Linked DNA regions of Homo sapiens. The protein of the gene in region 1 purifies or fractionates together with the protein of each later gene. This does not show direct contact. Each region holds a gene or a part of one and is shown in the gene's direction. Other genes may lie near its edges. The genes, in order: NOC2L, NOC3L, MRPL3, TBC1D9B, CEBPZ, SDAD1 and PDCD11.

Region 1 (2,777 bases):
CCCTGGATCTCTCTGGTTCACAGCCTGAGGGCTCCTAGTGGTTGGGGAGGGGTCACAAGACTGAGAGGCCAGGCTGACTCTTTCTCTGCTCCTCCTGGCATGTCCTACGGAGGTGCATGGCCTGTGGCTTCTGTGGAGGGTGTGGGAGGGGCCCCCCAGGCCTCCCGTGACCTCCATCTGTCCCGTCCTGTGTCTGGCACTCTTTGCTGTTGCTGCTGCGTCTTCTGGTTGCTCGGGACGGAGCCCCATGTGGCATTGCTGTGCTGAGGGCCAGGATGGGCCTCAGTGCCATGTTGTCAGGAATGGGGGCTGTCCTGGTACTCTGTGTGGCAGGGACCTCTAGGTCTCCAGACGTGGGTCCTTAGTGCTTCCCAGGATTTTGGGAGAGGGCCCGTGTTCCTGATCCTTCCCTGCTGATCAGAGCCCCACTCGGGGACACGCCAGGCTGTGTGGGGCCATGGGGCTGGGACCGTGCCTAGCTGCTTATCTCTTGTTTCGGGTTGGGTCTCCTCGTGCTGAAGCCTGAGGACCAGGGTGACCAGGGTGCAGCCAGGTGCAGGGCCAAAGGGACCAGGGGGACCAGGGTGCAGCCAGGGTGAAGCCAGGGTGACCAGGCATGGGGCCGAGAGAGCCTGACACGGCCCTTGGGGCAGATGTTCCAGCAGGTCGACTTCAACAGGAAGCCAGGGCGCATGAGCTCCAAGCCCATCAACTTCTCCGTGATCCTGAAGCTGTCCAATGTCAACCTGCAGGAGAAGGCGTACCGGGTGAGGCTGGCCTCCTGGGGAGGGGCCTGGGCAGTTCCCAGGGTGGGGTTGGGGGTGCTGAGGTGGATGGGAGGGGGCTGGCATCCTCCAAGTTCAAGCATGGACCTTCATGGTCTCCCAGGGCTGGGGCCCAGGAGCCCCTTCCTTGCAGTCCGTGCCCTGGAGATGGCGCTGCCCTGACAGCCTGAGGGGAAGGGGCCTGAGTGCCCAGCCCCAGCCTCTCCCTGATGCACTCGGCCCTCTCTCCTGCTCTTCAGGACGGCCTGGTGGAGCAGCTGTACGACCTCACCCTGGAGTACCTGCACAGCCAGGCACACTGCATCGGCTTCCCGGAGCTGGTGCTGCCTGTGGTCCTGCAGGTGTGTGTCCTGCCCACACCGGCTCGTGGCCGACTCAGACTGTCTTATAACGGGCTTGGCTGCCCCAGGCTGGTAGGAGGTGCCCTTGTCCCGGGTACCTGGGACTGGGGTGGAACCTGACTGCTGGCAACGCGCCCCGTGAGGCCCCCTTGGAGGGGCTGATGAGGGGTTCTAAGCCATTCAGGAGGTTTGGGGGCAGGCCTGGGCAGTGGGCTGAGGACCCTGGGAGCACAACAGCCTCCTCCCCAGGTGGGAACCACAAGGCTGATCTTTGCTTCGGGGTTGGGACTGAGCATGCCGACCCTGGCTCAGGCTGGTACGCTGATCGCACACTTCCCCAGGCCATCCCGGGTGTGGGGAGTGGGTGGAGTGGCTTCTCAGGTGGCAGGAAGGCCTGGCCTGCCCCGCCAAATACCCCACATCAGCCTCATAGGAAGGCCCAGCCTGCCCCGCTAAATACCCCACGTCAGCCTCATCTTAGGCAGGAGTGGGGTGGAGGAGGGGGTTCTCCTTATCCTCAGAAGGTCCTTCTGGGCCCCCACGGGAGGTCTGTTTGCTCTCAGCCGTGATGTTTCCAGCCTCAGGGAGGCCTGTGCCTAGTGGAAGGGGTGGGGGCCCTGCTGTCTGGCCCTGGTGGCTGGAATCAGATGTGCCGACTATAGGTCTGTGCAGTGTGGGGAGGAGGGATCTGCTCACATGAGCCACAATTGGTCAGAGGCTTATCCAGATAGAGGTGTGTGCATGTGTGTGTACTCACACACGGCCACACATGTCACATGCACAGAGCCGGGACCCCCTTTCTGGGGGGCACTCACAGCAGGGGCCACAGCCTCTGTTCCTCCCATGTCCTCTTGGGTGGTGATACCTGGCATTGGGGCATCTCTGCTTCTGGACTCAAGGGCCCAGGGTCGGGGTCTGGGGTAGGGGTCAGAAAATGTTTTTGGTGAGGGGCCAAATGGTAAACGTGGCTTCCTACGGATGTTCAGCTGCACAGGCAACTGCAGAACCATGCAATGCACACGTGTGGCTGCACGTCAGCGAGACTGTATTTTATTAGTAGTAGTAGTATTGTTTGAGATGGAGTCTCGCTGTGTTGCCCAGGCTGGAGTGCAATGGTGCGATCTCGGCTCACTGCAATCTCCATCTCCTGGGCTCAAGCGATTCTCCAGCCTCAGCCTCCCAAGGAGCTGGGTTTACAGGCGCCCACCACCACACCCAGCTAATTTTGGTATTTTAGTAGAGACGGGGTTTTGCCACGTTGGCCAGGCTGGTCTTGAACTCCTGACCTCAGGTGATCCACCCGCCTCAGCCTCCCAAAGTGCTGGGATTACAGGCGAGAGCCACCACGCCTGGCATAAAACTTTATTTCCAGAGGTGAGTAGTGGGCAGGGTTGGCCCAGAGGGTGGGCTGATTCTGCCTCTGCCATCCCAGCTGCAACAGCTATGCACTTGAGCCCTGAGATGGGATCCATGTCCCCTCCTGGGGTATCCCCGTGGCCACCACGCGTGGTTTTGCACAGGACCTGGGCCAGCTGTGCACATGGAGCGGTCCTGGGCTTCAGTGGCTGACCCCTCCCTTCCGCAGCTGAAGTCGTTCCTCCGGGAGTGCAAGGTGGCCAACTACTGCCGGCAGGTGCAGCAGCTGCTTGGG
Region 2 (3,500 bases), on another chromosome or scaffold:
TTTGGAGTACTGCTCATTTCAAGGTCACTTTGAACATTTTTCCACATTTGAAAGCTTCATCTTGTGGAATTATTAATAGATTCTTTATTTTTTTGATTATGGAAAAATTTACACAATCATATTTGTAATATCTAGGCATACAAGAAGTGTGTCTTGTTAATTATTACTGTTCTGAATTCCTTTTAATTGTAAGAGAAAGACTACTTACAAATAACTGTTAACTTTTTAGCTTTAAATTACAAAAGCGATTCTGTAGTATGAAGTCATTTTGGTTTGTTTCTAGCACAATTATACTTGCATATGTTTCATATAATTGAATGTCAGTTTCTATTACCTAGGACCATTTAATCAAAGTTGAACTGAAATAATGCATTTTATTGTTTGAAATTATATTAGTTTGGAATTTGTGACAGAACAATCTAGTTAAATTTTACTTTCGCTTAGCAGACCTCATTAATAGCAAAAATGAATTACAGGTCAACTGTTTAACTGTTTTCAGTCACCCATCATAAAACCATTACAGATTATGCTAGTGTTGATTAAATCTAGTTCCCTATGAATTTCCTAAGGTGGACATGTTTTTCTGTAGCCCAAAACTATGAAGTATTAGTTTGTATAAAGTAATATATAGTGTTAAAAACAAAGGAGAATATTCTGTACTTAAAAAAAAACTAAATAGGATTATCCTATTTGTTAATTAATATGAATTATTTTGGGCTTATTATCATAGAAGCTAAGAATATGAGCTCTAGGCTGGTTGCACTGGCTCATGCCTGTAATCCCAGCACTTTGGGATGCTGAGGTGGGAGGATCACTTGAGCCCAGGAGTTTGAGACCAGTCTGGGCCACATGGTGAAACCCCGTCTCTACAAAAAACACAAAAATTAGCTGGGTATTGTGGCTCACCTATGGTCTCAGCTACTGGGGAGGCTGAGGTGGGAGGATCAATTGAACCTGGGAGGTGGAGGCTGTAGTAAGCTGTGATAGTGCCACTGTACTCCAGCCTAGGTGACCAAGTGAGACCCTGTCTCAAAAAAAAAAAAAAAAAGTTCTAGAATCAGACTGCCTGAGTTTGAATCCTATTTTCCTTTGGTTTATGAGCTTGAATCCTATTTTCCTTTGGTTTATGAGCTTAGCCAAGTTATTTTCTCTTCCTTTGCTTCAGTTTTCTTATCTATAAAATGGGTCCAATGATAGTACCTGTATTGTTGAGGAGATGATGTGTAGTAGTAAATACAAAATTCTTAGCTGTTGTCATTATTATTATTACTGTAAAAATATTTTATTAAGATTCTTGGATACTTGTAAGCAGAGGAATATGTAAGGGAACATCTAATCTGTTTTAGAGATCATTGAAGATCCTATTCAAGAGCTGACCATAGAAGAACATTTGATTGAGAGAAAGAAGAAATTACAGGAGAAGAAGATGCATATTGCAGCCTTGGCATCTGCCATATTATCAGATCCAGAAAATAATGTAGGTAGTATTAATTTCTTTAGGCTCTTTGTATTAGGTATGGTGTAAATGCCTAATTGTTAAGATTCCCTTGTTACCTATAAGCATACACTAAAAGGAAAAGCATTAACTAAACATAGTAGCTGGGTTAGAGTAAGAGAGTAGACAGAATCTTAGCTTAATGCTATGTCTGAACTTAATTTCTTTTGTAATCCTAGAAAAGTTACTTAAACTCTCTGAATCTTATTCTCCTCATCTTCATATATGAAAATACTGGACATCTTATAACTCTAAAAATGTTTAAATTTATAAAATTGTATTAGGGAGGAGGAACCTGTTTGCAAATTTGCTTGACATACCCGTGGAGTTTTTAAAAAGCGCGCTACAGGGGAAGTGTATGGAATTAGTTCAGGAATATTTGTAAGTTGAAAATATTTTAAGTGAACTAGAGCCAAAGTTAAAGTAAAGTGTTATTGTGCCATGTGTATAGTCGTTGAGTTAGTGATGGTTATAACACATGAACTAGAGAAATCTGAGGTTTAATCTTGGCCCTGATAAGTACTATCTGTGAGACTTTGGGTAAGTTATTTATCCAAGACTCTTTCATCTCTAAAAAAGGACAGTGTCTTTTTCAAAACTTTGTGGTGAGGATTATATGATGAAATATACGTGAAGTCATATAAAATGATACTATTATTATTGTTATGCTGGTGTCCCCAGCATACTATTATAACAAGTATTTGTTTATGAAATGATAGAATAGCTTATTTACATTTATAGAAGCAAATTTCATGTGGGAATGCTTTGGAGTAGTACTTGTCCTTTTCTAATGAAGTGAGGGGAAGATCTAGAGCAGAATTAGGGAAGAGAGATTTGGAATATTTCTTATGTGTATTCTCTCAATCATTACAAAACCATAGGCATAAGAGATTGATCTAATTTTACAGCTGGAAAATTGAGCCTTAAAAAACCCAAGTGATTTGTTCCAGATTTTAACAGCCACTGGATTGGAACCCAGATCTTCTACTCAGGAACCTGTGCTCACAGACAATAGTAGTTCATCAAAGCAGTCGAAACCATCATAGAAATTATCTTTGAAGCTCAAGTTAATGTGGCTATATTACATGTAATTCCTGATTAATTCATGTGTATGACTGATATATTTGGTTAATGTATATAACATTTTAGTATATTTTGAAAAGCGTTTTTAGAAGAATAGGACACACGTACTTTAGGAAAATCCAGCAAAAAAGAATTTCCCAAAATAGCTAAATAATAAATGTAAACTAATTTTTTAAGGTCTGTATGTTTCTAACTATATGACAAAAATATGATTACTGATATAGTTTGGAGGTGTGTCCCCTCCAAATCTTATGTTGAAATGTGACCTCTGATGTTGGAAGTGGGCCTGGTGGGAGGTGTTTAGATTATAGGGGTGGATCCCTCATGAATGGCTTGGTGCCATCCTTGTGGTAACAAGTGACTTCTCACTCTGGTAGTTCATGTGAGAGCTGGTTGTTTAAAAGAGCTTAGAACCTCCCCTATCTTTCCTGTGACACCCTGGCTCCCCCTTTGCCTTCTGCCTTGATCGTAAGTTTCCTGAGGCCTCACCAGGAGTAGACGCAGGCACCGAGCTTCCTCTACAGCCTGCAGAACTATAAGCCAAAATAAACCTCTTTTCTTTATAAATTATCCAGCCTCAGGCATTTCTTTCTAGCAATACAAGAACGGACTAATACAATTACTTTATGACTTTAGTGACTTATCTCTTGGTAAAGTGAGCAGGGTCTGGAGTTTGGTGTGGCATGACTAGACTTGGAGTCATTGTGTGAATTCCGCTTGTTTTGCCGGATGTGGGGCTGTTGTCTTTTGTTCATAATTGTTTCGTCATGATTTCTCCAGCTTTATAAGCTATTTCTTTAACAGATTAAAAAATTGAAAGAATTACGTTCTATGTTGATGGAACAAGATCCTGATGTGGCTGTTACTGTTCGAAAGCTGGTAATTGTTTCTCTGATGGAGTTATTTAAAGATATTACTCCTT
Region 3 (3,500 bases), on another chromosome or scaffold:
GTGACATGGTTTATTTTGTTTCGTGTTAGAGAAGTTAGCTATTTTTGAATATTATGGTAGCATACTCCATTTATTTTTCTTTAAAGCTTTGTCATAATATCTGTCCTGCTATTCTTAACAGTTTATTGACTAACAAATTTGGGTTTCATATAACTCCATAGTAATTATAGAGTACAATGAGATATTTATGGGAACTTTTTAAAAAAATCAAGTGTTTGACTTTTTAAAAATTTATTATGTACCAGCCTTCATATGAGTAATTCTTTGGTTTGATAGATGCCACTGTTTTCTACTTGATTGTACTTCTGTGTTTTTGTAATGACTAGCATCATCATCTTCATTTTCATTACAAGTTTTGTAAATTGATGCCTTCATGGCCTGGATATTTGTAAATCAAGCATGCTAGGGTAATCCCTTCTGCCCCAGCCAGGTCTGTGAAGATTGCTTCCTCTGAAATATGAGGTAGTGAGAAAACAAGTGATGTGGGATCAGAAAAGTTGAGTTCTAATCCTGATTTCTACCTTTAGGTCCCCTATACTCACCTTTTGAACATCTATTTTCTTACCCATAAAAACAAGGAATAGTACTTGATGGTCTCTGAATTATCTTCCAGTTCTGAAAGTCTCACATTGGTTCTCTGAATATTTTAATTCTCAAGAAAAAACAAGTTTGGAGAAAAAAAGTACATGGGAGCTCAATTTATTCTATTTTACTTAGTGATAAAGATGTGTTATAATCAAAATTTTATGAAAGTAATACTAATAGTATTACTATAACAGTACTAATAATTAATATTACAGAATGATAGGTATTGCATTTCATAGTCGAGGCTGTTCACACATTTTTTTCTCTTTAGCTTATTCTGATAGCTTTATTCTCTTCAGTGGTTACATAGCACAGCAGGGTGATTTGGATGTTGTGTTCTAATGTTGTGGTGGATTTTGACCCACTTAATTTACGTAAACTTTGAAAACTTCACTTCTCTAGCATAGAAAGTACTGCGAAGGACCTTCTTTCTTCAAGATATAAAATTTCTTCAAGATATAAAATTTCTAAGTCCAGATGACATTTATTACAATAACAAGAAAAAGCTTTGTCTATAAAATGACCTTTCTTCAAAATGAAATGTGAAAATGAAGTTTTAGAATTCTTTGTAAATACATCATTTTTGTTTGAAAACAAAGATTTTTGAAACTAAAAGTATCCAGACTTCCATATTATAGCTCTCAGGAAAAAATGCAAATCGATTGATTATAGAGGATTTTTTAAAAAACGAAGACCTATGAATATAAAATTTCATATATCTAAACATTTGGAAATTAAATCACTTTATAATAGTGTTAGAACTGTTTTCTTTTAATCTGTAAAGAATTTATGCCTCCAAGAAATTAGACTACGTTGCCTTTTTGTTTTGTACCTTATTATAAATAAAAACTGAGGTAGTACATAGTGTTTTTGAATGAGGAAGTTAAGTGGCCTTAAACATTGATTAAATCAATTCATCTTAGGAGGAGAGGCATTTTCATTGTGGGAAGGATAATTGCAGAGAACTTTGAAGTGGGGGAAAAGAATGCAACCTCATAGATGGGATTATCCAACTGTGACAGTACTGTCAGTCTTTTAAATTGCCTTTTGAAATCATTTACTTATTTAGAAGTCTGAAAAAAAGAAAAAAGTCTTTTACATTGCTTCTGGTTTTAACTCTACTTGAGCATTTGGTTTTCCTCCTGACTGAGACCTAATTAGTTTTATAATATTTTGATTTTAAAAGAAAAAAGTATTTACTATTAGTGAAATTGGATGATAATCGAGAAGTATGTTTTACCTTGGTTCTATTTATGGTTTAGTCTAAAAAGTTACTTAGGATGAAATGTTTATATATATTGTCTGTTTTGTATTATTAGAATAGTAAAGGATTTTCCTCAGAAGCTTCCAGATATGCTTAAAAAGCTGGCATTAACAAAATAATATGCTTTGAAAATCACGTGGAATAGGTGAATGTCAAAAATAAACTTGAAGTCCATTCTAAAATTTAATAAATCTGAATTTTATACATCAGGAAAATAATTTAAAGGAGCCATACTGTTAAATGAAAATTTTGTGTTTGCTCTTGTTGCAGAAGTGAGTATGATTGAAGATGAAAAGCAGGGGACTTGATAATAGTGGTGTTGGGTGTTAGTGTTAATTTCAGCGTGTAGGAAATAAAATAATAGAGAATGATTGGAATGAATTTGTGTTATCACTCTTGTGGAGGAAAGGATAGCTTCTTGAGAGAACTCTTGTGAGGTATAGAACAGTCTTCAGTGGACATCAAAGTAGAGCTTCTTGGCATTTGTTGTAGGCTCCACTGGAGAGCCCCAGGGGGATTCCTGGTAAGTTGTAGACTGATCCAAAAATTAAACTGTGTGCTTACAGGCCAGTGCCACCCAATTTCATGTCAACTATAGGCAACTGAGTAAGTTATAAGTACTAATGGTTTACATTTTAAACTGAACAAGTAACTAAAGTTTGCTAAGTATTCACATATTATATTCTACAAACAAGTCTGACTCTGCAGGCACTTCATTGGAATTTGGGGGAAGGATACTTTGTTATTATCAGTGTCATCTTGAGTTGGTTAGGGTTTTTTAGTTGCTGCTATTCTTGCTTTTTGAAAATTACAATTACTATTGGTTTGGTTTTATAATAGTTTCTTGCTGATTTGTTCGTCCTCAGAGCAAGTCATGATATATCTCTTAGGCCTATACTTTTACAGTAACTAGACCTGAAGATTGAGGCCACAAACACAGTAACGTCGTGTTCCAAGAACTGATGGAGCAGAAGAGTAGAAAAGTGGGAAGAGTTAGACAAACTTTATACCCAGATGGTTGCCTGTCCTTTATCTTCTGTTTCTTTTCATCGTTGGTTTAGCCCACTTCTTTATTGTCTAACTTGCCACTGTGCTTAGCTGTAAAGTTAGAGACACAGATGAATAAAAAACAGCCTTTACCATCCAGGTGCTCACAGGTCAGCATGCTGACCAACATTTGAGTAGATAAGTGTATGGTGATATGGACAGTAATTGAGATATTCCAGTGTCTAGTGTTGGCATAGACAAAGGAGCAATGTGCTCTGGTAAGGCTGCTCAGAGAGGGATCTGGATAGGAAATATAACTGAATTTAGTACTAGAGACATGTACTTATATTTCCCAGTGTGAAGAGTGCCTCTTTCACCAGAATAAAACGAACACAGATACATCTACCTGCTGTTCCCTCTTCCTCAACTTTGAAGCTTTGGAGATGCAGGGTAGGGAGGAGATCACAGATGAAGAGAGTGGTGCAGACAGATTCAGGAAAGCATACATAGAGTAACATAGCCATTGGGGGCCTGCGGGTTCTTCATTTATGGTTAGAAAGTTGAGGGAGAGCGAACAGCAGGAAAATAGATGTACTATGTTATATTGTGATGAAAGAGGCACTCTTCACATCAGGAAATAAAAAGTGGCATAACTTTTTTGTCA
Region 4 (3,500 bases), on another chromosome or scaffold:
CTGTCTGCCTCCGGCCAGACTCAGCCTTCAGGGGCCTCAGTCCGGCCCTCCCCTCACCCTCTATGTCTCTCTGCCCTGTTCCCAGGTCTTCTCGTGGGCACCCTGGACGTGGTGCTGGACTCCAGTGCCCGCGTGGCCCCTTACCGCATCCTGCACCAGACCCAGGACTCCCAGGTCTACTGGACAGTGGCGTGTGGTAGGTGCCCTGAGTGGTGAGGGGTGCTGGGCAGGGCCTGCCCTGGAAGGGCCGTTGCCGAGAGGAAGGGGTGTGTAGCCCACGTGTCTGGGTGGTATTCCCTGCTGACAGCATAGCCCAAGGCTGCAAGAGGGAAGTGGAGGAGCCTTCGCTTCCATCTTAGAAAGGCAGCTCCGTGGCCCGGTGCGGTGGCTCACGTCTGTAATCCCAGCACTTTGGGAGGCCGAGGCGGGCTGATCACGAGGTCAGGAGATCGAGACCATCCTGGCTAACACGGTGAAACCACGTCTCTACTAAAAAACACAAAAAATTAGCTGGGGGTGGTGGCGGAGGCCTGTAGTCCCAGCTACTCGGGAGGCTGAGGCAGGAGAATGGCGTGAACCCGGGAGGCGGAGCTTGCAGTGAGCCGAGATCGCGCCACTGCACTCCAGCCTGGGCGACACAGCGAGATTCCGTCTCAAAAAAAAAAAAAAAAAAAAAAGGCAGCTCCACTGGTCATGGGGACAGGGCAGGAGAGGACAGCCCCATGGATCCCCATGTACCTCTAGGGACGCAGGTGTGGGGCTAGCCAATGTCCACATTCTCATGCCACCTTTTCTCAAGGTAGACGTAGTCGGCCTCATTCAAAGATTCCATATTTGCAAATTGGCCTACTCAATAAAATGTATTTGCAATCCCCAAATCAATACTTCCAGCGATTTTGTGGTCATTTGGAGACACTCATGGACACATGCACGTTCAAAGCAGTGAAAAATTTGACTCGCCTGATGCCCATGTCCCCAGCTGAGGCAGAACAGGACGACGCTCTGCCTTCTTGATTCAGCTCTCATACTGCACTCACGTGTCCTGTTCACAGTCTCTGCAGTGCCATGTTTTTCCCATGTTTGTGCTCGTTGCTGATGACTTGGCTGTTTAAAATGGCTCCCAAGCATAGCGCTCTTGTTCCTAAGAGCAAGAAGGCTGAGTTGTGCCTTGTGAAGGAGATCTGTGCATGAGAGCAGCTTCATTCAGGCGTGAGTGATAGTGCTGCTGGCCGTGAGCTCAATGCCAATCGATCAGGAATACGTATTAAATAAGGCATCTTTAAACAGAAACACATGTAAAACAGTTATGTATCGGTCAGTCGACAGAAGTGTGATTAGAGGCTCCAGGAACCTAACCCTGTGTTCCCCCGGGGTACTGGTTCAGGATTCGCTAACTCAGTGTTCGCGGCCACCTTACAGAATCTGACCACCTGAATAACGAGAATCCGCTGTAGTTGTCCTCCTAGGTGGAAGCGCACTCACCCGTCCAAGAGTGCGGAGGGAAGTCCCCTTTCAGCGGGTACCTGCTGGGTTGAGTTTGCTCTGAGAAAATGACAGTCCTAGCTGACGCTCAGACAGTGCTTCCTGTGTGCCAGGCACTTGCCTGAACCACCCGGTACCTCCAGAAGGCATAAGTACTTTGGTCTTCTCTATGTTGAAGGTGAAGAAACTCTGGCCCAGAGGGGTTGAGTAACCTGCTCAGAGTCACACAGCTGCAGTTTGGACCCTCTCAGTACCTCTCTGAAGCAGAAGCCACAGTGCCCTTGTTCTCCAGGGTAGTGGTTTCCCTTGAAGGCCTGGGAGAAGATGATGAGACTCAAAAGTTTGTCAACCTCACGGCTGGAACCCAGCTTCAGGAGGGGAAGGGTCAAGGAAGTAAAAGCACAGGGCGGGCGGCACCCCGGGAATAGCCCCACTCCCAGGTGGGCGCTCTGCACGGGCATCCTGACCAGCAGTGCCCTTCTCCTTTGCAGGACTGAATAACTCAGTAAGAGTTAGGAAGGGGAGTTTGTCCAAGGCCAAGCAGGGAAGCCCAGTTAGACCCCCGATCTCTGGCTTCAGAGCCTGAGTGGACCCTGGGGGCAGCAAGAGTTTGCCAGAGGAGGGGCTTCCTGTGGGGAGGGGACCATTTCTGAGTGGGCCAGGAGGTTGGTGTGTGCTAATGAGGAGAGGAGCTGCTTTAACATGGGCCCTTGAGATTTCCATCTCTGGCAGCAAGAGCTGCCCGTCCCTGGGGAGAGAAAAGTACGAGGGGCAGAGTGGGAATCCCTTTAGTCACAGCAGGCCTGGTGCTGGGGAGGGGCCCAGCCACAGCCACGCAGCGGAGCCCATGTACGTAGCCCCGTGCCACACACTTGACCTCTCCCCTCCTGCCAGGCCCAAAGCCCTGCACTGGCCCTGGCTGTGCCTCCCTTTCCTGCCAGCCAGGCTAGGCCCCAGAAGCAACTCACCAAGACCAGACATGGCCCTGCCAGCACCTGCTTAGTGAGTCCTGACCCTTGAGCCTGGTGTTCGAGGACACCTGGGGGTCTGCCTGCCTCCATTTCTGGCCTTGTCTCCCCAGCTCACAGCCTGGCCTTCAGCCGGACCACACAGCTGCAGGGCCTGGAGGAGCCACACCCCTCCTGGCTGCTGTGCCTAGTGTCCGCCATGCCAGCTAACCTTCCCTCCCGCTCCTCTGAGAACTGCCCAGACTCCACAGACCCATCCTTCCTCCTTACTCCTCTGGACATGACGTGTCTGCACACGCTTTTACGTGGAAGCCCATGAGGCCGGGAGCTTCCGAGGGTGAGGGCAGGCTCTGCAGCCAGGCACCCAGGGTTAGGATTCTGATTTGATCACTTCCCAGCTGTGTGACCTTGGGTAACTTATTTCACCTCTCTGTGCCTCAGCTTCATCTGGTAAAATGAAAATAATGGTACCTGTCTCCACTGTGTTCTGAGAATGAAATAAGATAATCCATGGAAAACTCTGAAAACAGAAACAGCATTTAATACTCTAATTAGCTATTATATTATTTTTATTCCCAGCACCTAGCATAGAGATGGAATAGTTTCTTAGTATGAAATGAAGATTGAGTTACTTTTAACTAATATTTTTAATGCACATATGTAAAAAAAGAAATGTTTTTTTGAGGCGTTCTCTTTCTGTTGCCCAGGCTGGAGTGCCGTGGTGCAATCACAGCTCACTGCAGCTCTCTGGCTAAAGCGATCCTCCCACCTCAGCCTCCTGACTAGCTGGGACTGCAGGCCCACGCAACCATGCCTCATTTTTTCTATTTTTTGTAGAGACAGCCATGTTGCCCAGACTGATCTCAAACTCCTGGGCTCAAGCGATTCCCCTGCCTCAGCCTCCCAGAGTGCTGGGATTATAGGACTGAGCCACTGTGCCCGGCCTATAAATATTTTTAATTAAAGTGCTGACACATCCACACAGGCAGCGAGGAGGAGATTTCTTCTGTTTTAGTTTTCTAGGAATGTTATGTGTAACAGAAAATAATA
Region 5 (3,500 bases), on another chromosome or scaffold:
TGGGAGTTTTGTTAATTTAGCATATAAATTTTGTTTTATGCTTCTTTTTGGAATTTAGCCTTTAATTTCCTTTTATAATAATTTTCTTTATAGGCTTAAAATCTACCTTTAATATAGATTTTAATATAATACTTTAAGTTTAATATAGTGATAACTCATGGGTAATTTATCCAGACCATGGCCCTTAGAATGGATTCAGTGCACTGTTATAGAAATAAGTCCTAAACCAACTAGTATCATAACCTAATGCCTTAGGGTAGTAAAGTACCTCTTATCTCATCTGGTTGACTGGTTAATTAGGTTTGATTTGGCTTGTTTTTTAAAATCATTTAGAATGAATAATTTTGAGGGTTTGATTACATCTGTAAATGGCTAAGTTTTGCTGTATTCTAATATAAGAATAGGGCTGATAAAATATTATCTTTGAAATGTATTACACTTAAAAGATTCCAGCTACTTTTTATTGAGTTAAACTATTTTTTGTATATTAGATACAAATTTCAGTCATTTATTTCCAATTGAGTATACTTAAGATTTTACAGTTGTGGTTTGCCACTGGTCATAGGTGCTTTGATGATATATAGTAAGATTAGACCTTTAATAAAATTGTCAAATATATAACATGAATATTATAGGTATTATAAAAAAGTTGCTGTTAAAGAGAAACAAAAACGGGATGCAGATGAAGAAAGTATAGAAGACGTGGATGATGAAGAATTTGAAGAGCTGATTGGTAATTTGTTTTGTTGACTCTTTGTAAAATAATCTACTACTATGTGTTAATAGACCATGGAACATTAGTGGGAGAAGTGGCCTTAGTTTTAAAAAATCACTTAGCTAAGAATATCATGCAAATCACAGTGGAAGATTAAGAAATATTTGGGGCCAGGCGCTGTGGCTCACACCTGTAATCCCAGCACTTTGGCAGGCCGAGGCAGGAAGATTGTTTGAGGTCAGGAGTTCGAGACCAGCCTGGCCAATATGGTGAAACCCTGTCTCTACTAAAAACCCCAAAAAATGAGCTGGGCATGGTGGCACGCACCTGTAGTCCCAGCTACTCGAGAAGCAGAGGCACGAGAATCGCTTGAATCCAGGAGTCAGAGGTTGCCGTGAGCCAAGATTACGGCACTGCACTCTAGCCTGGGTGACAGAGTGAAATCCTGTCTCAAAAAAAAAACAAAAGAAACAAATATTTTTATGATATATGGTAATTCACCCACATTTGCACCAGAAAAATACATGATTTGTGCTTTGGATAGTCTATATAAGAAAACATTTATATTTGCTTAAGTCTATTCAATTGTTACAGCCAAATCTCATGTGAAAAAGAAATCCTTTTTACTATTCATAATCTATTATAGTATATCAGTACTAATTGATAGCAATAGTCTACTGTTTGATCTTTTTTATCTTTAATCCACAGAGCTACAGAAATTTTGATTGAAACTTAATAGACTTAAACAAAAAACATGGTAAATTGGAAAGACTTACACTGATTTCACGTTACATATTTTTTTGTTGTTGTTTTTTGGGGGGTTTGTTTGTTTGTTTTGAGACAGGCTCTCTCTGTCTCCCAGGCTGGAGTGCAGTGGCACAATCCCAACTCACTGCAGCCCTGCAGCCTAGACCTTCTGGGCTCAGGCGATTTTCCTGCCTCAGCCCCACGGGTAGCTGGGACTACAGGTACATGCCATGATGTCCGGCTCGTTTTTTTTTTGTTTTTTTTTTTGTTGTTGTTGTTTTTGTTTTTTTTTTTTTTTTAATAGAGATAGGGTCTTGCCGTGTTGCCCAGGCTGATGATCACTCCACCTCGGCCTCCCAAAGTGCTGGAATTACAAGCATGAGATGTTACATATTGTATCACACCTATTAAAAATGAGCACTTAAGTAGTTCTAATAGAGTAAAAAGGACGACAATTGCTAAATATCATTTTATTTGATATTTATCCTCTTTCCATAAAAGAACTGTAGAAAGAGCCGAAATTAACTGGATCCTTCTTTAGTTTTGGGATTTAACTAAGATCAGTATTTCACAGGTTTGTATACATTATTAAGGCACACTAGCAACAGTAACATTTACATTGTTTTGGTGTTCACTTGTCATAAACAGCAGAATCATGACTTAGAATAATTGATTCAGATACAAGATATATGTCAAGCTTGTCATTCTTTGTTGTATCTCACATTTCTGTATTGTCTGGCAGACACATTTGAAGATGATAACTGTTTCAGCTCTGGAAAGGATGATATGGATTTTGCTGGGTAACATACTTCTATCTTCTCCTTCCTATTTTTCTAGCATTTCCCAAATTGTTGTCCCTCAGAACAGTAGACCACAGAACTATATGATAAAGGGGAAATGTAGTCAAGTAAGTTTGGGAAGTGGATACAGTACTTTCATCTTTGACATTTATAAAGCACGTTATTATTTACTCTGAGCAGTCTGCAAAGCTTTCTCCTTCTGAGTCATTTAATAGCCTACTGCCCTAGTAGTCAGCAAAACACTACTTTAGAAAATACTGCCTCCTCTTGTATTACAAGTTGTGTTTTTTTCCAGAAACGTGAAAAAGAGAACAAAAGGAGCTAAGGATAACACATTAGATGAAGATTCAGAAGGTAGTGATGATGAACTTGGTAACCTGGATGACGATGAAGTTTCTTTAGGAAGTATGGATGATGAAGAATTTGCTGAAGTTGATGAAGATGGAGGAACATTCATGGATGTGTTAGATGATGAAAGTGAGAGCGTTCCAGGTAAGCATTTTTTAAAATAAGACATAAACTGTGTCTTCCTCACTTCCTTAGCCTTAAGTTTGTTTTTCTGCTAAAGGTTTTTAATATAGCCCTGTATTCAAATTAATACTCATGTCAGCCAGAAACTTAAAAGGACCTTTTCCCTTCTCGTTTGGAGCTGAAGGGTTTTTATTGTGTGTTATGTGTGTTTTCTTTTAAGCAGCTTTTTGAGCTTTGGACTTTTACTTTAACCAGCAGCTAGCTTCTCTGTACAATACATGTTGAGCTGAAATGCTGCCATTTTTTGATAGTAATTAGCAGTTTATAAAAGTTAATCAGTATTCATCATAGCCCAGCATAGATGAAGGTGAATATTTTATCTTGTAAATTAGCAAGGAACACCCAGAATTGTCTCTAGACTGTTGTCTGACCTTTCTGTCCTTTCACATACCTCCAGCATGCACATGCCTGCCCAACATTCTTCTTACTTATTCTGAACCACAGCAGAAGTTTCTTGTTTTAAGGGGTTTTATATTATTTGGTCTTATTAATGAAGCTATTTAGAAAATTTTGTACTTGCACAAAATATTAGAACTGTGCCAATTCTTAGAGTCTTTTTCTCAGTCTGTCCTCAAGCCTATGCTAGTGGAATTACAAAACCCACATGGAATAGCAGTATAGTGCCTTACCATCAGAATAAAGATTTTAGCATATCTTGGAGTAATATTTTCCAGTCTTATTGTTTTTAAATTGCTTATTAGCAAATT
Region 6 (3,500 bases), on another chromosome or scaffold:
ATCAAGCTACCAGTGGCTTTCTTCACAGAATTGGAAAAAACTACTTTAAAGTTCATATGGAACCAAAAAAGAGCCCACATTGCCAAGACAATCCTAAGCCAAAAGAACAAAGCTGGAGTCACGCTACCTGACTTCAAACTATACTACAAGGCTACAGTAACCAAAACAGCATGGTACTGGTACCAAAACAGAGATAGAGACCAATGGAACAGAACAGAGCCCTCAGATATAATACCACACATCTATAACCATCTGTTCTTTGACAAACCTGACAAAAACAAGAAATAGGGAAAGGATTCCCTATTTAATAAATGGTGCTGGGAAAACTGGCTAGCATATGCAGAAAGCTGAAACTGGATCCCTTCCTGACACCTTATACAAAAATTAATTCAAGATGGATTAAAGACTTAAATGTTAGGCCTAAAACCATAAAAACCCTAGAAGAAAACCTAGGCAATACCATTCAGGACATAGGCATGGACAAGGACTTCATATCTAAAACACCAAAAGCAATGGCAACAAAAGCCAAAATTGACAGGTGGGATCTAGTTAAACTAAAGAGCTTCTGCACAGCAAAAGAAACTACCATCAGAGTGAACAGGCAACCTACAGAATGGGAGAAAATTTTTGCAATCTACCCATCTGACAAAGGGCTAATATCCAGAATCTACAAAGACCTTAAACAAATTTACAAGAAAAAAACCCCATCAACAAGTGGGCAAAGGATATGAACAGATGCTTCTCAAAAGAAGACATTTATGTAGCCTAAAGGCACATTAAAAAATGCTTATCATCACTGGCCATCAGAGAAATGCAAATCAAAACCACAATGAGATACCATCTCATACCAGTTAGAATGGCGATCATTAAAAAGTCAGGAAACGATAGGTGCTGGAGAGGATGTGGAGAAATAGGAACACTTTTACACTGTTGATGGGACTGTAAACTAGTTCAACCATTGTGGAAGACAGTGTGGCTATTCCTCAAGGATCTAGAACTAGAAATACCATTTGACCCAGCCATCCCATAACTGGGTATATACCCGAAGGATTATAAATCATGCTGATGTAAAGACACATGCACACATATGTTTATTGCAGCACTATTCACAATAGCAAAGACTTGGAACCAACCCAAATGTCCAACAATGATAGACTGGATTAAGAAAATGTGGCACATATACGCTATGGAATACTATGCAGCCATAAAAAAGGATGAGTTCATGTCCTTTGCAGGGACATGGATGAAGCTGGAAACCATCATTCTTAGCAAACTATCGCAAGGACAGAAAACCAAACACCACATGTTCTCACTCACAGGTGGGAATTGAACAATGAGAACACTTGGACACAGGATGGGGAACATCACACACCGGGGCCTGTCGTGGGGTGGCGGTAGTGGGGAGGGATAGCATTAGGAGATATACCCAATGTTAATGACGAGTTAATGGGTGCAGCACACCAACATGACACATGTATACATATGTAACAAACCTGCACGTTGTGCACATGTACCCTATAACTTAAAGCATAATAATAATAAAACAGTGAAAAAAAAGTCTCTCCTCTTTAAACCATTACAGTGGCAATTAAGTTTCGACATGAGTTTTAGAGGGAACATTCAAACCATAGAACCCTGGAACGAGTGATTTATTATTGAAGCACTCTTTTTTCCTAGGGCAATTTAGTAGCCCTTTTGGTTGATTAAAAAACACTTAATGAGTATAATCACTGGTTTAAGGATTGTCTAATCTGTCCTGATAAGTAAGTGATATGCTGAACAGCAGCTTTTTATTTTCCTTGGAAAATATTGCAGGATAATAGCCCTAAAGACTTTAACCTTTCTTATTTGAGCTAGTCCCATCTCTTCTTAGAGTTGGCAAGTAAATGCTTCTCTGATTTAGTGTGCCGGACACTGTTCCTTATTCCACCAGTAGAGGAAATGGCAGTAACTGGAATAAAAGCCCTCTAAGGCTGCCTACCTGACATTCTCTAACATGCTGCAGTTTTGGAGACCTAAGCTATATAAAACTCAACGTGTTTTCCTTTTGAGTTAATCTTTTTAGGAAGTCTTCCTGTGTTGAATCATGAAAAAATTGCTATTCGGGCTCTTTTAAACTTTGTTTTTCTTTTTCTAGAATCAATGCTATAAAGGAGATAACAGCTCGATGTCCTCTGGCCATGACTGAAGAACTTCTCCAAGACCTGGCTCAGTATAAAACACACAAGGATAAGAGTAAGCTGCATGTTACTCTCTACACACCAAAGAGTACAGTGTGACTCCTTTTTACCTCATTGTACTCTATGGGCCAGAATTTCTAATTAAAAGTATTATTTTACAGATGTAATGATGTCTGCTAGAACTTTGATTCACCTCTTCCGAACACTGAATCCTCAGATGCTGCAGAAGAAATTCCGGGTAGGTAAAGCACACTTATGTTGGTCTAAAGGTTATGGTCTCACAAACTGAGAGAAATTTCCTACAATTAGGATTTTAGTACTTATGATGCTTCTGTTATGATTACATGGTTATGATGCACACGGTTGTATTCTTTAAGCTTGGAATCAAATACCATGGCCCTGAATATTTTATAGTTGGCACATATTCATTGATGATGACTGTGTCTTGAAGACCTATCAGGCTGTTTCAGCTTGAAAGCTTTTAATGTTATTAACAGATCGGAATCTCAAAGATCAGTCAGTAGCTGATGCCAGTTTTGTGAACAGGCTATTGCACAGCCAGATACTACCTCTTTCAAGTTGGAAGGGAGGAGGGATGCATGTATGTAACAGAAAGAGAGATGACGTTTTTCAAGACTTAAAAAATTAGAGCAGTTACTCTCTAATAACTACCAGTGTCTTGATCTAGATCAAAACACAACAAGAAAATAGTGGACAGATTGCTGGCTGGGGATTTATTTTGACCTGAGACATAAGCAAACTGTTGCTGTCATTTGGTTACCAGCATTTTTTATAGTGCTCCCTTTTAAATTCATAATTTTGTTAGCTGGGTGTGGTGGTGCGTGCCTGTAGTCCCAACTACTAGGGAGGCTGAGGTGGGTGGATCCCTTGAGCCCAGGAGGCGGAGGTTGTAGTGAGCTGAGATTGTACCACTGCACTCCAGTCTGGGCAACAGAGCAAGACCCTGTCTTCAAATAAATAAATAAAATAAATTCATAATTTCAGAGACTACCTTTCATGATTAAGGTTTTATGATCTAAGCAACTTATTACAAACAATTTCTTTTCCTTTAGGGTAAGCCTACAGAGGCCTCCATAGAAGCAAGAGTACAAGAATATGGAGAATTAGATGCTAAAGATTACATTCCAGGAGCAGAAGTTCTGGAAGTTGAGAAAGAAGAGAATGCTGAAAATGATGAAGGTTGATTTTTATTTCACCCTTATTTTGGGCAAAACACTCCTGCAGTATCTGTGCAGACCTTTAAATTGTATACTATTTGAACATTCATTCAGCAGATATTTATTGAGCAATGACTATGTG
Region 7 (3,500 bases), on another chromosome or scaffold:
AAAAACATCCCATGAGCCAAACAGCATGTCTGTGGGCAGTTCAGACCTCCAAGCTGTGCGTCCACACCCTCGCCTGCCTTGTCTTCTGGACACTTTTGTGTGACATAAGAATGGGTTTGAGGGAAAAATTATTATTTTTCTCTGGGTGATGAATATATTTGGTTATTGTCTAAAGCACTTATTAGGCACCTAGTTGCACAGAGTATGGTGCAGTGTAGATATAATCCTTAATTTCCAGTTGCTTACAGTATTAAGAGTTTAGGACAGAGAGAGAATGGAAAGCAATACTAACCTCTCATTCAGTTTTCTAGCAGGACCCTGTACCATTTTATCACCTAAGGGAAGCTTGGGCATATAAGAGCATGAGCACAATTTGGATTTTGAGGAAAGAGAGGCTAGGTGCCTTGCACACAATAAGCTCTCAGTAATGACTCTATTCATTGCTTGGGTTGAAGAGTGATTAATTGGGGGTGGGGGAGCTGCAGGACAGATTCAGGAACCACAGTGTCTCTAAGCTGAGAGAGCTGTTAGAGGTTGCAAGGCTGTGCATCAGAATTATCTCAATAACTTGTAAAATTCAGATTTACTAGATCTAGGATAGGGTCTTGCAATTTAAATTCAAAGCAAAGCAAAAACCAAGCCAAGGTAATTCAGAGGCAGCCCCATGAGTTTAGTGTACAGGAGAGGAAAGCTAGGTCCAGGGAGTGAAGGCTAGTCTGTTCCAGCTCAGACCAGCCTTGAGTTCCCTAGCCTTGGGACCCCAGAGGGTTTCCTCAGCCACACCCTGCCCAGTGGGGCCATGAGTGAGTGACCATGCTGTGTAAGGAAAGCAGGGATGGTGGCTTTTCTCTCTTCTAGCTGAGGAAAGGCAGCGAACACCAGGCGATTGTGCAGCACTTGGAGAAGTCCTTTGCCATTGCCTCCTTGGTAGAGACGGGCCACCTGGCAGCTTTCTCCCTGACCTCTCACCTCAACGACACCTTCCGCTTTGACTCAGAGAAATTGCAGGTGGGACAGGGTGTCTCCCTAACCCTCAAGACCACAGAACCAGGAGTGACTGGCCTTCTTTTGGCTGTGGAGGGGCCGGCTGCCAAGAGGACCATGAGGCCGACCCAGAAGGACTCTGAGACAGTTGATGAGGATGAAGAAGTGGATCCAGCTCTGACTGTAGGGACCATAAAGAAGCACACCCTCTCCATCGGGGACATGGTCACAGGGACTGTCAAGTCCATTAAGCCTACCCATGTGGTTGTGACTCTGGAAGATGGCATTATTGGCTGTATCCATGCCTCCCACATTCTAGATGATGTTCCAGAGGGCACCTCTCCTACTACCAAGCTGAAGGTTGGGAAGACGGTCACTGCCCGAGTGATTGGCGGGCGAGACATGAAGACATTCAAGTATGGAGGCTCTGGGGGTGGGCTGGCTTCGAGGGAGATTGTTGTTGTTGTGGGAGGACTGGGAAAGTAGGTGGGCTCCAAAAAGTTGCATGTAAGTCAGATTCTCTTTTAGTTAACAAAAGGCATTCACCAAAGAATTATTTTGCAAGATTCTTTTTTTTTTCTTTTTTTTGAGACGGAGTCTCACTCTGTTGCCCAGGCTGAAGTGCAGTGGTGTGATCTCGCCTCACTGCAAGCTCTGCCTCCTGGGTTCACACCCTTCTCCTGCCTCAGCCTCCCAAGTAGCTGGGACTACAGGCACCCACCACCACGCCCGGCTAACTTTTTGTGTTTTTAATAGAGATGGGGTTTCACTGTGTTAGCCAGGATGGTCTCAATCTCCTGACCTTGTGATTTGCTCACCTCCACCTCCCAAAGTGCTGGGATTACAGTGCATTATTCTTTTTAAAAATATGGAATATATGGTGTGGTTGTTAAGAACATGGGTTTGGAGTCAGACCCGGGTTTGAATTCTAGATTAACTGTGACCATGTGGCAGTAGCTACTTAAGTCCAAATTTTATTTTCTTAATTTGTAACGTGAGAGTCATGGTAGCGACTACTTTGTAGGGCCATGGTGAAGACTGAAAGAGAGAACGTGTAGTCTGTTCTTTGCCTAGTGGGTTGCTGGCCTCAGTTACTGCGCTGTATACATCTGCAGTTGTCATTCTCCACCTCCCACTTTAATTATCCTCATTTACTTTAAATCTAGTGCCACATGTTACTGTAGCAGAAATTCTTGCTATAACAAGAACAGCAAAAAAAGAATTCAAAGTCTGGCCAATAATTTGCATATTAATTTCAGTAGCTAACTGTGGGGTCTTCAGTAAGTCAATTATCCTCTAAATAAAGACCTCAGTTTCCTTATTTTTAGAATGAAAGAATTGGAGTATATAGACTGTAAGGAAAATTGTTTTCAGGATCTGATATGACAATCCTAAAAGATCAGGCCAGGCACGGTGGCTCACGCCTGTAATTCCAGCACTTTTGGGAGGCTGAGGTGGGTGGATCACCTGAGATCAGGAGTTCAAGACTAGCCTGGCCAACATGGTGAAACCCCGTCTACTGAAAAAACAAAAATTAGCCGGGCACAGTGCCTGTAGTCCCAGCTACTCGGGAAGCTGAGGCAGGAGAATCACTTGAACTCAGGAGGCAGAGGTTGCAGTGAGCTGAGATTGTGCCATTGCACTCTAGCCTGGGCAAGAGAGTGAGACTCCGTTTCAAAAAAAAAAAAAAAATCAGGTGAGGCTGGGTGTAGTGGCTGAACCCTGTAATCCCAGCACTTTGGGACGATGAGGGAGGTGGAAAACCTGAGCCCAGGAGTTCAAGACCTGCCTGGGCAACATGGTGAGACCCCATCTCTACAAAAAAAAAAATAAATAAATAAAAATAAAAATTAGCTGGGCATGGTGGCATACACCTATAGTCCCAGCTACTTGGGAGGCTGAGCTGGGAGGATTGCTTGAGCCCAGGAGATTGAGGCTACAGTGAGCCATGATTGCGCCACTGCATTCCAGCTTGGGTGACAGAGTGAGACCTTGTCCCAGAAAAAAAAAAAATTCAGATGAGCCTGCTCCTTACTAATAACTGCAAAGGTTGGGAATGGAAACCTTCAGCCTGACACATCTGTCTTCAGTGGTGGTGTGACAGTGGAACAGGGTGCTTTTGTGAGCTTGGTTTGGTGGAGAGTAGGGAGAAATCCTGACCTACAGATTACTGTGTTACAGAGATGAAGAGAAATGATTCAGCTTATTTGTTTCTCCAGGTATCTCCCAATAAGTCACCCCAGATTCGTTCGAACCATCCCGGAGCTGAGTGTTCGGCCAAGGTGAGGGGGACATTAGCAGCACTGTCTTACGGAAAGAGCACTGGGCTTTGGAATTAGGAATCCCGAATTCGAATCTTGATTTTACCAGTGTTAGGATTGATTTTTGCCTTTCTCTGTCCAAGTTTTCTTGTTTCTCTAGTGGGGATATTTGGTTCTCCTAGGGCTGGAGGGATCATATGAAAATTAATGCAAAAGCTGTGTACAGGTTTTAAGTATCAATTTAAAGCCTGGTTT

What was found.
Region 2: the proteins of NOC2L (region 1) and NOC3L purify together in Homo sapiens (affinity purification with mass spectrometry; one large-scale study listed by BioGRID and IntAct). This does not show direct contact.
Region 3: the proteins of NOC2L (region 1) and MRPL3 purify together in Homo sapiens (affinity purification with mass spectrometry, with the first as the bait; one large-scale study listed by BioGRID). This does not show direct contact.
Region 4: the proteins of NOC2L (region 1) and TBC1D9B purify together in Homo sapiens (co-immunoprecipitation; one large-scale study listed by IntAct). This does not show direct contact.
Region 5: the proteins of NOC2L (region 1) and CEBPZ purify together in Homo sapiens (affinity purification with mass spectrometry; 2 studies listed by BioGRID and IntAct, with this or other methods). This does not show direct contact.
Region 6: the proteins of NOC2L (region 1) and SDAD1 fractionate together in Homo sapiens (co-fractionation; one large-scale study listed by BioGRID). This does not show direct contact.
Region 7: the proteins of NOC2L (region 1) and PDCD11 purify together in Homo sapiens (affinity purification with mass spectrometry; one large-scale study listed by BioGRID and IntAct). This does not show direct contact.

The regions. Positions count from the first base shown.
Region 1 is NC_000001.11:946,480-949,256, reverse strand, and holds part of NOC2L (nucleolar complex protein 2 homolog), read left to right. Parts: intron 1-653; coding exon 654-767; intron 768-1,024; coding exon 1,025-1,126; intron 1,127-2,711; coding exon 2,712-2,777.
Region 2 is NC_000010.11:94,352,940-94,356,439, reverse strand, and holds part of NOC3L (nucleolar complex protein 3 homolog), read left to right. Parts: intron 1-1,346; coding exon 1,347-1,477; intron 1,478-3,382; coding exon 3,383-3,500. UniProt on the Homo sapiens protein: May be required for adipogenesis.
Region 3 is NC_000003.12:131,492,972-131,496,471, reverse strand, and holds part of MRPL3 (large ribosomal subunit protein uL3m), read left to right. Parts: intron 1-3,500.
Region 4 is NC_000005.10:179,901,398-179,904,897, reverse strand, and holds part of TBC1D9B (TBC1 domain family member 9B), read left to right. Parts: intron 1-85; coding exon 86-196; intron 197-3,500. UniProt on the Homo sapiens protein: May act as a GTPase-activating protein for Rab family protein(s).
Region 5 is NC_000002.12:37,211,097-37,214,596, reverse strand, and holds part of CEBPZ (CCAAT/enhancer-binding protein zeta), read left to right. Parts: intron 1-635; coding exon 636-733; intron 734-1,042; exon of another isoform or gene 1,043-1,160; intron 1,161-1,917; exon of another isoform or gene 1,918-2,204; coding exon 2,205-2,262; exon of another isoform or gene 2,263-2,341; intron 2,342-2,557; coding exon 2,558-2,754; intron 2,755-3,422; exon of another isoform or gene 3,423-3,500. UniProt on the Homo sapiens protein: Stimulates transcription from the HSP70 promoter.
Region 6 is NC_000004.12:75,959,946-75,963,445, reverse strand, and holds part of SDAD1 (protein SDA1 homolog), read left to right. Parts: intron 1-2,137; coding exon 2,138-2,235; intron 2,236-2,341; coding exon 2,342-2,418; intron 2,419-3,253; coding exon 3,254-3,380; intron 3,381-3,500.
Region 7 is NC_000010.11:103,424,126-103,427,625, forward strand, and holds part of PDCD11 (protein RRP5 homolog), read left to right. Parts: intron 1-858; coding exon 859-1,400; intron 1,401-3,203; coding exon 3,204-3,266; intron 3,267-3,500. UniProt on the Homo sapiens protein: Essential for the generation of mature 18S rRNA, specifically necessary for cleavages at sites A0, 1 and 2 of the 47S precursor. Directly interacts with U3 snoRNA. Involved in the biogenesis of rRNA.